3 linked regions of the Homo sapiens genome follow. The protein of the gene in region 1 purifies or fractionates together with the protein of each later gene. This does not show direct contact. Each region holds a gene or a part of one and is shown in the gene's direction. Other genes may lie near its edges.

Region 1 (3,660 bases):
GTCCTTTCCAAAGGCAAGGAAATGGAGGTATCTATCCAACAACTCCTGTCCATCACTGGTTGAGGGCTGTCCCTGGGAAAATAACTTCCCAGCATTCTAGCTCACCTGGTTGGGCCAAGAATGCTCCAGCCAGAGAACACCCTCACACAGAGAGCTGTGAGTGTTTCCAGTAGAAAGCCAAATGCCTGCAAGAGAATATAAGTACTGACAGATATTTGTGTGGCACCAAGAGCATCTGCTTCAAGGCAGGTGTGGATTAAACCAGAGAATATATGTGAAAGCACTTTCCAAACCATGAAGTGCTATACAAATGAAAGAATGTGCCTGTGAGACCAAAGCCTTGAGTTTTATCTCTGTATGGAATAGTTTGCTATATACTATTCCATCATCCCAATTTACACACTCGCTTTCCCCATGTGGAGGAAGGGGAAGAGTTTGGGAGAAACATTCCACCACAATTGTAAACCAACTGAAAAGCTGATATTCCACTATTTGTGGGATAATAACATCAACTATCTAACTAGTATTAGCACTCATTGAAGAATACTGAAGACTGGAAGCCAGTATTACCTGGCATCTTTTACTTTTAAAACTGGGACTAGAAAGAAAATATATTTGCTGCACAGAGAAAAAATAGGGAGTTAAGAAGAAAGGAAAGTGAGGAAAGGGACCGTATGTGCTCACTTAGGATATGTGCAAGATGGAAGGTCCTGGATTGCAGTCTGATTTGGGATTCAGGTCCAACTCCAGCATTCAGTGTCAGCAGAACTTGAGCCTTAGTTTTAGTTTCCTGAAAATGAGTCTGATGCTAGACGTTTTTTTAAACAACCTAATCAAATGATATAAAATATTTGGCAAATCAAAATGAGTCAAGAATCAGCTGCTGCTGTGTTTCTTTTTACCCTATTCCCTTTCCTTACCATTCCTTTCTTCCCCAGCATTAAAACATATAAAGCCCCAAAATCAGAGCCAGAGGCTAGCCTTAGTTATAAATAAAAAATATCTCATTCTTCACCCCCGCCCTTTCCCAGTGGTATTTATCTACATCAGAGGTCAGCCAACTTTTTTCTATAAAGGGCTAGATAGTACATATTTTAAGCTTTGTAGGCCATAAACTACTTTCACAACTATTCAACTCCGTCATTGTAGCTCAGATGCAGTCATTGATGTTATGTGAATGAATGGGCATAGTGTGTTTCAATAAAACTTTATAAAACAGACAGTGGGCCAGGATCTACATAAAAGTAACCACAGGCACTGGTTCAAAACTTAAAACTAGCTGAATGAACTCTTATATTTCTCTGACACATCTAAACAAGGCAGTCATTAACAGTTTAGAGGCCAGGCACGGTGGCTCACACCTGGAATACCAGCATTTTGGGAGGCCAAGGCAGGTGGATCGTTTGAGCCCAGGAGTTCAAGACCAGCCTGGGCAACACAATGAGACCCCCATCTGTACAAAAAAAAAATTTAAAAATTAGCTGGCATGGTAGCATGTGTCCATAGTCCCAGCTACTCGGGAAGCTGAAGTGGGAGGATCACTTGAGCCTAGGAGGTAGAGGCTGTAGTGAGCTGTGTTTGTGCCACTACACTCCAGCCTGAGTGACAGAGCAAGAACCTGTCTCAAAAAAAAAGAAAAAGAAAGTAGAAAGTTCCGGCAAGGTCTTCACTGGTTTATTTGGGTAGGAGATATTTTATTTTCTGGCCTGAATTCGATAAACAATTGCTTATATTCTGTTTCTCTTTGTGCATGGGGTTCTCGCCCATTACTAATTTTTTTTTTTTTTAAAAAAGGGTTTTTGTTTTATTTTGGGTTTTTTTTTTTTTTTTTTTTGAGACAGAGTCTCACCCTGTCACCCAGGCTGGAGTGCAATGATGTGATCTTGGCTCACTGCAACCTCCACCTCCTGGGTGATTCTCCTGCCTCAGCCTCCCGAGTAGCTGGGATTACAGGTGTCTGCCACCATGCCCAGCTAATTTTTGTATTTTTAGTAGAGACGGAGTTTCACCATGTTGGCCAGGCTGGTCTTGAACTCCTGACCTCGTGATCTGCCTACCTCAGCCTCCCAAAGCTTTTTGTTTTTTTAAGATCACAACTGAATTTGTTCAGAATGGCTTCACAGACATAACTCAAAACAGGGTATGTCATGATCTGTACTCTGTGCGACTGAAAACAAGGTATTGCCTTCCAAAGCCCCAAATGTTAGACACCTTCCTAATGCTTTTAGGGGTTATGAAATATGTTCTTTCTTTTTAGCAGATTTAAATATCTCGGTTGACTGCAGCTTCAATCATGGGATCTGTGACTGGAAACAGGATAGAGAAGATGATTTTGACTGGAATCCTGCTGATCGAGATAATGGTATTTATATTTGACAGTTTCATGTTCTGCAATATGGTGAAGGGATAGAAAGCCCTCCATGAGTGATGGGTTGTTATTCCCATTACTCATCAGAGCAGGGTTGTTTGTCATTTTTGGAAACTTTTAGACCTTCTGAGCTCTCCCTTGATAGATGACTAACTTGGTCCAGCATATATTCTCCTACTTAATCCCTCTCCCACACACCTGCCACCACAAAGGATATGGGAGAAAACCTCTTCCATATTCACTCTCCTGCTGCTGAGGGAGAGATGTTGAGATTTGTATAAAGTTTGGGAGAGTTAGGGAAAAGGTAGAAAGAAATGGTTTCTTCTTCCCAGTTTACCAGCCATGGCATCTTGTAGTTTTTGTTTTTTGTTTTGTTTTCATGGGGGAAATAAATCTTGAAAGGAAATATAACCTCCACCTAAACCTGGTGTTTTAGTAGAGTGGCCCCTCAAAGCATGAAAACCATAATGAACATCAAGTCAATGACCTGAACTCCTGAACTGAGCTTTCCCTTCTGTTTGTTGCTTGAGGATTTCTTTCGAGCCACCTGTCCTTGAATTTTTCTCAATCTTATCTGTGAGCTGCGGATTTCCCACCCTTCCCATTGCCTACTTAAACACTATTGACGGACCCTAACTATCCCCTTAGTGTTTGTCTTGCAGATCCCATTTAGAGCACAAATTGAATCTCTGTCTCCTGAAGACTGACTATATAATTAAAGTCAACTGTTACACCTTCAGGGACTCCAGTTACTTATCAATCAAATTATTTCTTTGGGGATGTATAGGCTCAGCCCTCAGTTAAAAGATCTTTCTTTTAGATCCTTCCTCTAGACCAATTCCTCTCCAACATCTTTCCTTTCATGCCCTCACATGCAATCAGAAAACCTAGATATCCCCTAACAAGAATTCCTTTTTGAACTTGGGGTTAGGGGAGAGGGGTTACATCTCACACAGCAGTTGTGTGAATGGGACTTTTACTAAAGATTCAGTGTAAGCAAAGGGCAAATTTAACCAGGCTGAAAACATCATATCATTGGAAAAGCTATCTTGTTGATAACTAACCTGAGTTTCTCTTTTCTTCCATAATGGCATCTCTAAATTTATGTCTACCAGAGCTATATCATATTGGGAGCCCATAGGTTATTCCAGGACCTCCACAGCTGATATAAGGTTATGTTAAGTCTTAAGTTGAGTCTTCTGTCCAAGGGAAGTTCCCTATTTACAAACACTCAATTCACAAATAACCCCAGGGTTCTCAGCTTCTGCATCATTCAAATCATACCCCTGCTC
Region 2 (3,660 bases), on another chromosome or scaffold:
AGACCCAACAAAGGTAGTATGTCTTAAGATAATGGGCAGTGAGCACTAACATTCTTGAGTCGCATCTCTGTTTTATGGTTCTGAATTTCACCAAGTTTTTCTGTTATCTGAAGTTAGAATAAGGGACTTTAGGATGTATTGAATGATATAGCCTCTTCTAAAGAGAAAGTACAATTATGGACTGCATTCACCTGAAGCTGAGTGTAACACATCTTAGAAAACACATATTTATTTGCTCAGTTCTTTTATAAACATGTTTTTATATGTTTTTTATTGAAAAATGATTCATTATCTAATTTTGTTTACATAAAGCAAACGAAAAACTCATTTAAAAATTGTTTTAGTATTGATATCACACAGCAAATTGTTTAGGTCTTCTTCAGGGGATAGATAGATATATAGATAGATAAAGGTCTATTATAAAGTAAAGCTACTGACTTTCAATGTTGAAATATATGCAAGGAGAAGACCAATACATGCACAGCTTCTAGAAATATGGCTGAAAAGTAGTTTGGTGAGACATTTTCTTTTCTACCCACTTCCTCCCAGTATTCCTTACAGTGTGGTTCTATGGGGTTTTGGTTTGGTAGGAACTGGATACTTACAAGATAGTTTTGTTTTCATCACTTCAGACATGGAATCCTTCTTTTAATGTTTTTTGTTTTAATTGATACATAATAAGTAGGAAATCAGTACATTGAAGAGATATCTGTACTTCCATGATTTTTACAGCATTATTCACAATAGCCAAGATATAGAATCAACCTAAGTGTGCATCAACAATGAATAAAGAAAATGCTATTCAGCCATAAAAAAGAAGGAAATCCTGTCATTTGAGGCAACATGGATAAAGCTGGATGATATTGTCATATATGAAATAATCCAGGCACAGAATGACAAATACCACATGATCTCACTCACATGTGAATCTATAGAAGTTAATATTGAAGTAGAGAGTAGAATAGTGGTTACTAGAGGGTGGAGAGGGGAGGAGGAAGGAAAATAGGTGTTGTTCAATGGGTACAAAGTCACAGTCAGATAAGAGGAATGGGTTTTGGTGTTCTGTTGCACAGTTAGGTGATGGTGGTTAACAATATTGTATTGTATATTTAAAAATAGCTAGAAAAGGATTTTTAATGTTCTCGCCACAAAAAAATAACTATGTATGAGGTGATAGATATGCTAAATACTTTGATTTTTTCTGCAATGTATACATGTATAAAAACATAACAAAACACAGTATCTCATAAATATGTATAATTCATGTAAAATAATGCTCTAATCAAATGTGTTGAGGTATTAGCAAATCTAGATACACAGCTTAGTGTAAAAATCTTGGTCAGTGTATTTTTTAAATATAAAAGAGTACAGTACTTTATTATCAAAATAAGTATGTTGTTTCCAATAATGTTTAAATGATGAGCCAGATAAGCTGTGTCCTTGGACTTCTTTGTAATTAAATCACTTTTGAGAAATATTTTTCTATCTGTCATAATATCCTTACTAGTTTAAAACATTTCATTGATACATATAGCCTGACAATCCACAGCCTTTTAAATTTAAAAATATTTGTTAGTTTTTATTACTATAAGCTGAGGTTGGCAACTTTTAAGGGAAATAGCTAAATGATACAATTATCCAGTTAAAGTTGTGAAGATTTACTTCAGTGAATTATCTGAATATTCTTTCTGATAATTTTAGAATATTTTTTCTCTAAATTAAGAGTATCAATTTAGTATTATGAAACAATTTTTCTTGGTTTATTCACTTATTTATTGAATAGTTATTTATTTTTCTGACTTACAAAAGTTACTTCATCAAAATGCACTTTTACATTGTAAATATCCAATGTGGCCAATCTACATTCAAATTATTTTGCAATCACAGTCATTGGTGTTCCTGAAGAATCTGAATAGGATCCCACATATTCAGTCTAGTTCTGAACCCATGATTAGGCTTTCTAAGCCTAAAATTGATGCTCAACTATTCACTTCTATGAAAATCAATCTTTTCACATGGATACATTGTGTACTATCAGAGAATATTATATTTTTCTAATTAGACATAATTTTATAGTTATTAAAATTCACTCCTACATCTGAAATTTTTCAAGGAAAAAGTCTTGGTAACCTTACATTTGATATTTTCTGCTTTAAAATATCACAGAAGTGGAGACATGATACATATTTTACACATTGCTATTGATAATCTATTATATCTATGAAGGAGAAAGACAAATAATAGAGTTCTGAAATTCTTTGCATTTTTCTTAGGAATAAAAATATAGTATTCATACATATAACAGACTAATGACGATATACTTTACACATTTTTCATATGAAGGAGGGTTATTTTTTCCTCATCATTTTTATTTCTAGTGATAGAATTAATCCAATTTTGTACACTTAAAGAGAATAGCTTTTTACACATTCAAAAATTTTCACATTTACTCTAGGAAGATAAAACTATGTTTCAGTGCCCCCAAATATATTTTAATGTACTTAGAACATAATACTCAAATATTTACCAATTGGATGACTGAATAACCAAAATTGCATCAAATATGACTTAGATGACTGATTCTATCTGGATCCTGATATTTGAATATAAATGTGAATTGTTGTCAAATGAGTAACTACAGAAAAAAACAGCTAGTTCTAATAGGTTTAGACAGTAGTGAGAAACAAAGGGCCATATTGAAGCAACCTTAATAATCATATGAATTTTATAGAGCATTCACTTTGTTACAAGCGTTTGATATATGCATGGTGCAATCAGTATAAATTACATTACATGTGAAGAAAAATTTTGTAGAACACTCATTTCTGTTATTCTCAAAGAGGGTAAAATTTCTAGTTCAATGGTATCTTATAATCAAAAGGATTGAAAGTACTTAATGCAGTTAATAAAATTGATTTGACTATGGGGGTAACCACAGAACAGTTTGAAGAGTTTAAAAGAGATAAATATGTACTAGTTTTATCTTCAAATTCATGCCAATTCTTACTTGGACTATTCTTTATATTTTCTGAATAAGACTTTTGTGAGAGAAATGTCTACCTATGAAGCAAAGATCCAATATTAATATTGGATCTTTAATAATATTAATATTGGATATTTTAAGTTGTTTTAAGTTGTTAAAGCTAACATGAACACACTGTAAATGGTGTAAGGCTAAAGGGTATTTTTATGTTATTTTTATGAATTAACATGATATGTATCGATGAAAAGTGATTCTATAATATTAGATCAGAAACTAAAATTTTCTGTTTATATACAGGCCAGGTACATAGGGGGAGGACCCAGTGCTTTCAAGCTTCCACACACAGCGCCGCCCATCTACCTAAACTCTGATTTGAAAGGACCACTAACTGCTGGGGTGAGAGAAGAATATTCGTTATTTCATGTCCGTTTCATCACAGAACCCTCACAATCAAAGACTAATTACTAGACTTAGAGGCTTGTTTTTAATTAAGTTTTTAATTAACAAGAGATTTCAAAATAGCATTTAAATTGGGGGCTTATGTTATGTGTCCTGTCTATGCAAGATTACATCTAAAACATTATTTTAGGCAAGCCATTAAGTAGAAATATCTCTTCTACTGGATTTGGAAATGTTATTGTCCCTTTACAGTGAACATGAGTATTTGTTATTCTTAG
Region 3 (3,660 bases), about 98 Mb from region 1:
GAAATATATCAGTTGACATAGGAGATAAGGTATCTGCTGAATTTATATTGACATTTTATAGTACTCTTTGTATTGCTTTAATAATCCTAGTATGTATACTTATTAAAATATATAAAAATTCACATGTGCAGTTTTTAGAAGTACCACTATATTCTTGGAAGTTAGATTCAGTCATCAGTGGGCAGCAGATGAAGTATGGAATTTTCTCCCATGTTACCTAATATTTTTCTTCTTTTGTTTTAGCACGCTTCCTGGGCTGTTACAGTCAATGGACTTATCAACACTGAAATGTTATCCTCCTGGCCAGCCAGAAAAATTTTCTGCATTTTTGGATAAAGTTGTTGGATTACAAAAATAAACACTAAACTCTCAACACTTTAAAAGCAACCCCCAAATTCAACCTATGTAATGTGATTAAATCAAATTAAATACATAATATATATTTACAAAATAATATAATTAATAAACTTCCTACATCTATAGAATGTATAGGAAATTTTATGTTGTGCACATTTGCATTGGGTCCAAATCCTAATTGCAGTTTAGTGAAATTACTAGATTTTTTTCTAATCTTCAGTATGTAGTGAGCATTCACAGGTTTTCTCCTAGAATCTCAAGTGGAATTGGAATCATAAAAATGAATGAGATTTGAAAACTTTCACAAAGATTATAAATGTAGTTAGTTTGATACTCCTTAGAATAAAAAAATGAAACAGTAACAACTTTTATGTAAAAAAATTTTACATAAGAGTTAGCATCTTTAGCTTTATAATCTAAGGAACCAAATTTAAAAAATGATGGATTATGCTCTGTGAAATGAAAAGTTCAATCATTGCCTAAAAAAGATGATCAAGTTAGTTGATCTCTTGTACTTGGAAAAGCTACTTTTTTCCTAAAGAACAGAGTGGAGTGGATATATTCACTTTTTTTTTCTAAAACATACAAAGTGATAAAATAATCGTGCCTAATGTCAAAACTTTACTGGTTTGAGAAGAATAATCAAAAAGGACTTATACCAATAGGACTTACTATTGTTTTTTAAGGATCTCCTCTCACAGTGGTAATGAAACATTAACTGTAACAGAAATTTACAATTTATGTGCTTATAAAATTAGTTTTATGAATGAACAATAAACTGATGCATATAATGGCTTAAATATATGGTTTTAAAATTGACTTAACTTGAGCAAGATACATTATGAAGTTCTTTCTGATTAGAGTGTGTGGTCTCAAGACCTTTACAGTAGATTATCCTTAAGTGTCCATAGCTCTCTGGTACAATGTTTAGATATAGTTTATCTATCAAAATAGAACATTCACTATAAAGACCTCTCTTCCATTCCAATCATATTATCCCAACATGCTAAATGTTCCAAACATTTTATTTGGAATGCATTTTATCATGTTTTTATAGGTTTATTTTTCTGATTGTGTTTTATTTAGGCTAATATTAAAAAAATGCTTACTAGTGGTAGAAGGTGGTGACAAAGAAATACTCTGGGTAGCAGGAGGAAGCCAACTTGGATTAAAATTTTGCTGAGAATAATCTAAAAAGTGAGTAATCTGGTTGAGAATTCACAGCACCATAATCATAATTGTATATCAATGTTATGTTTTAGGAAAGGTCCTATTCAAATCCAGGGAGAGAATCTTTAGTGTTTTCTGGGCCCTCATAAATACGTTTTTCTCATTTGAGAAAATTGTGACTTTATGTTGGTCACTTAGTTTTTATAGTTTATGATGAAGAATTAAAGAGAAACAAATGAAAGGCAAGGTCTACTCAAATATCAGACAACTAAAAGGCTATACAGCCCCTAAATCCTTTGCTATCTACTTCCCCAGAATAATGCATAACCTAAATTCCATTATTTCATTTAGCAGAGGTTTAAGCCGTTGTTGTCAATTGTGTGCAGTAACGCCTCTGACTTCCCTTTTGTGGAATTTTGTATCGATTTTGGATTTTTAAGTCAAAGGAGACTTTAAAATCATTTTGATTTGGCACGGATTCTTGAGATTATCTAGTCCAATTCCATCATATTCAGATTTTACCATTTGCTTAAAGTATAGCTTTTGGCAGAACTGCCCCTAGGAGCAGCTCCTTGATTCCCAGTCCCCTGCTCTTTCTACCCTGCATAATATATGTTGTAAGCTTTTTGTTTCTTTATAGTTGTTTGCCTAGTGTTCATTTTAGTTACTCGAATTCCTTGCAAGGTAGGTTTTGTTTGTTTATTTATGGAAGTTATTTAGTAGGAATTTCACACTTAACTGGGTTTTCCTTTGGCGTATGACAACCTTACCTAGGACTTAGAAATCTGTGATTTCTGAGTTTTTGGAATTTAGGAAAATGCTCTGGGTAGGATTGATAGTAGATTGAATAAATTAAGACTTTAAGACAGAATTGTAGACTTTTGGAGTTGGGAGATAATTTAAAGAATATTTTAAACCACCAGTTTTACAGATGAGGAAACATGCTAAATTAATCACCACATTTACATCTTATTAGTCCTTATTAAAGAATGGTAACCAAAAGTCTGTTTGAAATGTTTGCTCTATTTGTTTGGTTTCATTACATGACAGAGCTGCAGGTTCTTGATATTAATGAGTAAGTGGAATGCAGTTTATTTAGCAGTGTTCTATTAGAGGTACTGAAATTTTCAGGGATAAGGAAATGAAAGAGAGTTTAGCATTGGGAAATTTGCACCATGGATAGATTAAGAGGTAGACAGTTAATAGAACATTTACGGGTTGGAGTAGATGAAAAGAGATGTGATGTTTTGGGATGACCTTGGGAATTAAGGATTTTAGATACTTATAATTTGGGAGGAAAGAAAGCTCAAAGGATTTGTTGGTAAGATAGTATAACCAATGAATTTGACATAGGGTTCTGGAACATTTAAAAGTAGTCATTATCTGCAAGTACCATCAAGTATCTGATTTTGGACACCTTAGACCTCTACTTTTTAATTTTAATTTTTTTTTTTTTGTATTTTAGTAGGGACGGGGTTTCACCGTGTTGCCCAGGCTGGTCGTGAACTCCTGAGCTCAGGCAATCCGCCCGCCTCGGCCTCCCAAAGTGCTGGTTTTACAGGCGTGAGCCACTGCACCCGGCTCTACTTTGTATTCTTTTAAAGGCAAGTCATATATAGGCACAAAAGAGTACAAAAAGGTTGTTTGCCACTTTAATATTTAGTTTGAGGAAGTTTTTCAAGACTAAGTAATGACTAGCAGTAATATAAATATTCTTCCTGGCCCTTTATTGTGGTATAAGCACGTAATTCCTCTGATTTGTTCATAAATGTAAAATTTGTGGAGATGACCAAAACACTTCATATAGTCTGAGAAATGACACATGGACAGATCATTTGAAATTAATTTTGGGGAAACATTTGGAAAGGGTCATCATGATAGCCATGTGGTGATCAATTTTCTGCTGTACATGTAATACCATTTATTTATTTATTTATTTATTTATTTTGAGACCAAGTCTCGCTCTGTCACCCAGACTGGAGTGCAATGGCGTGATCTCGGCTCAGTGCAACCTCCACCTCCCAGTTTCAAGTGATTCTCCTGTCTCTGCCTCCCGAGTAGTTGGGATTACAGGCATGTGTCACCCCGTGGGGCTAATTTTTGTATTTTTAGTAGAGACTGGGTTTCACCATG

Evidence for each region.
Region 2: the proteins of EGFL6 (region 1) and LRP1B purify together in Homo sapiens (affinity purification with mass spectrometry; 2 studies listed by BioGRID and IntAct, with this or other methods). This does not show direct contact.
Region 3: the proteins of EGFL6 (region 1) and ALG13 purify together in Homo sapiens (affinity purification with mass spectrometry; 2 studies listed by BioGRID and IntAct, with this or other methods). This does not show direct contact.

Annotation. Positions count from the first base shown.
Region 1 is NC_000023.11:13,621,564-13,625,223, forward strand, and holds part of EGFL6 (epidermal growth factor-like protein 6 isoform 1 precursor), read left to right. Parts: intron 1-2,257; coding exon of another isoform or gene 2,258-2,260; coding exon 2,261-2,362; intron 2,363-3,660.
Region 2 is NC_000002.12:140,234,505-140,238,164, reverse strand, and holds part of LRP1B (low-density lipoprotein receptor-related protein 1B precursor), read left to right. Parts: coding exon 1-13; intron 14-3,280; coding exon 3,281-3,379; intron 3,380-3,660. UniProt on the Homo sapiens protein: Potential cell surface proteins that bind and internalize ligands in the process of receptor-mediated endocytosis.
Region 3 is NC_000023.11:111,687,644-111,691,303, forward strand, and holds part of ALG13 (UDP-N-acetylglucosamine transferase subunit ALG13), read left to right. Parts: intron 1-243; coding exon of another isoform or gene 244-358; exon of another isoform or gene 359-2,529; intron 2,530-3,660. UniProt on the Homo sapiens protein: Catalytic subunit of the UDP-N-acetylglucosamine transferase complex that operates in the biosynthetic pathway of dolichol-linked oligosaccharides, the glycan precursors employed in protein asparagine (N)-glycosylation.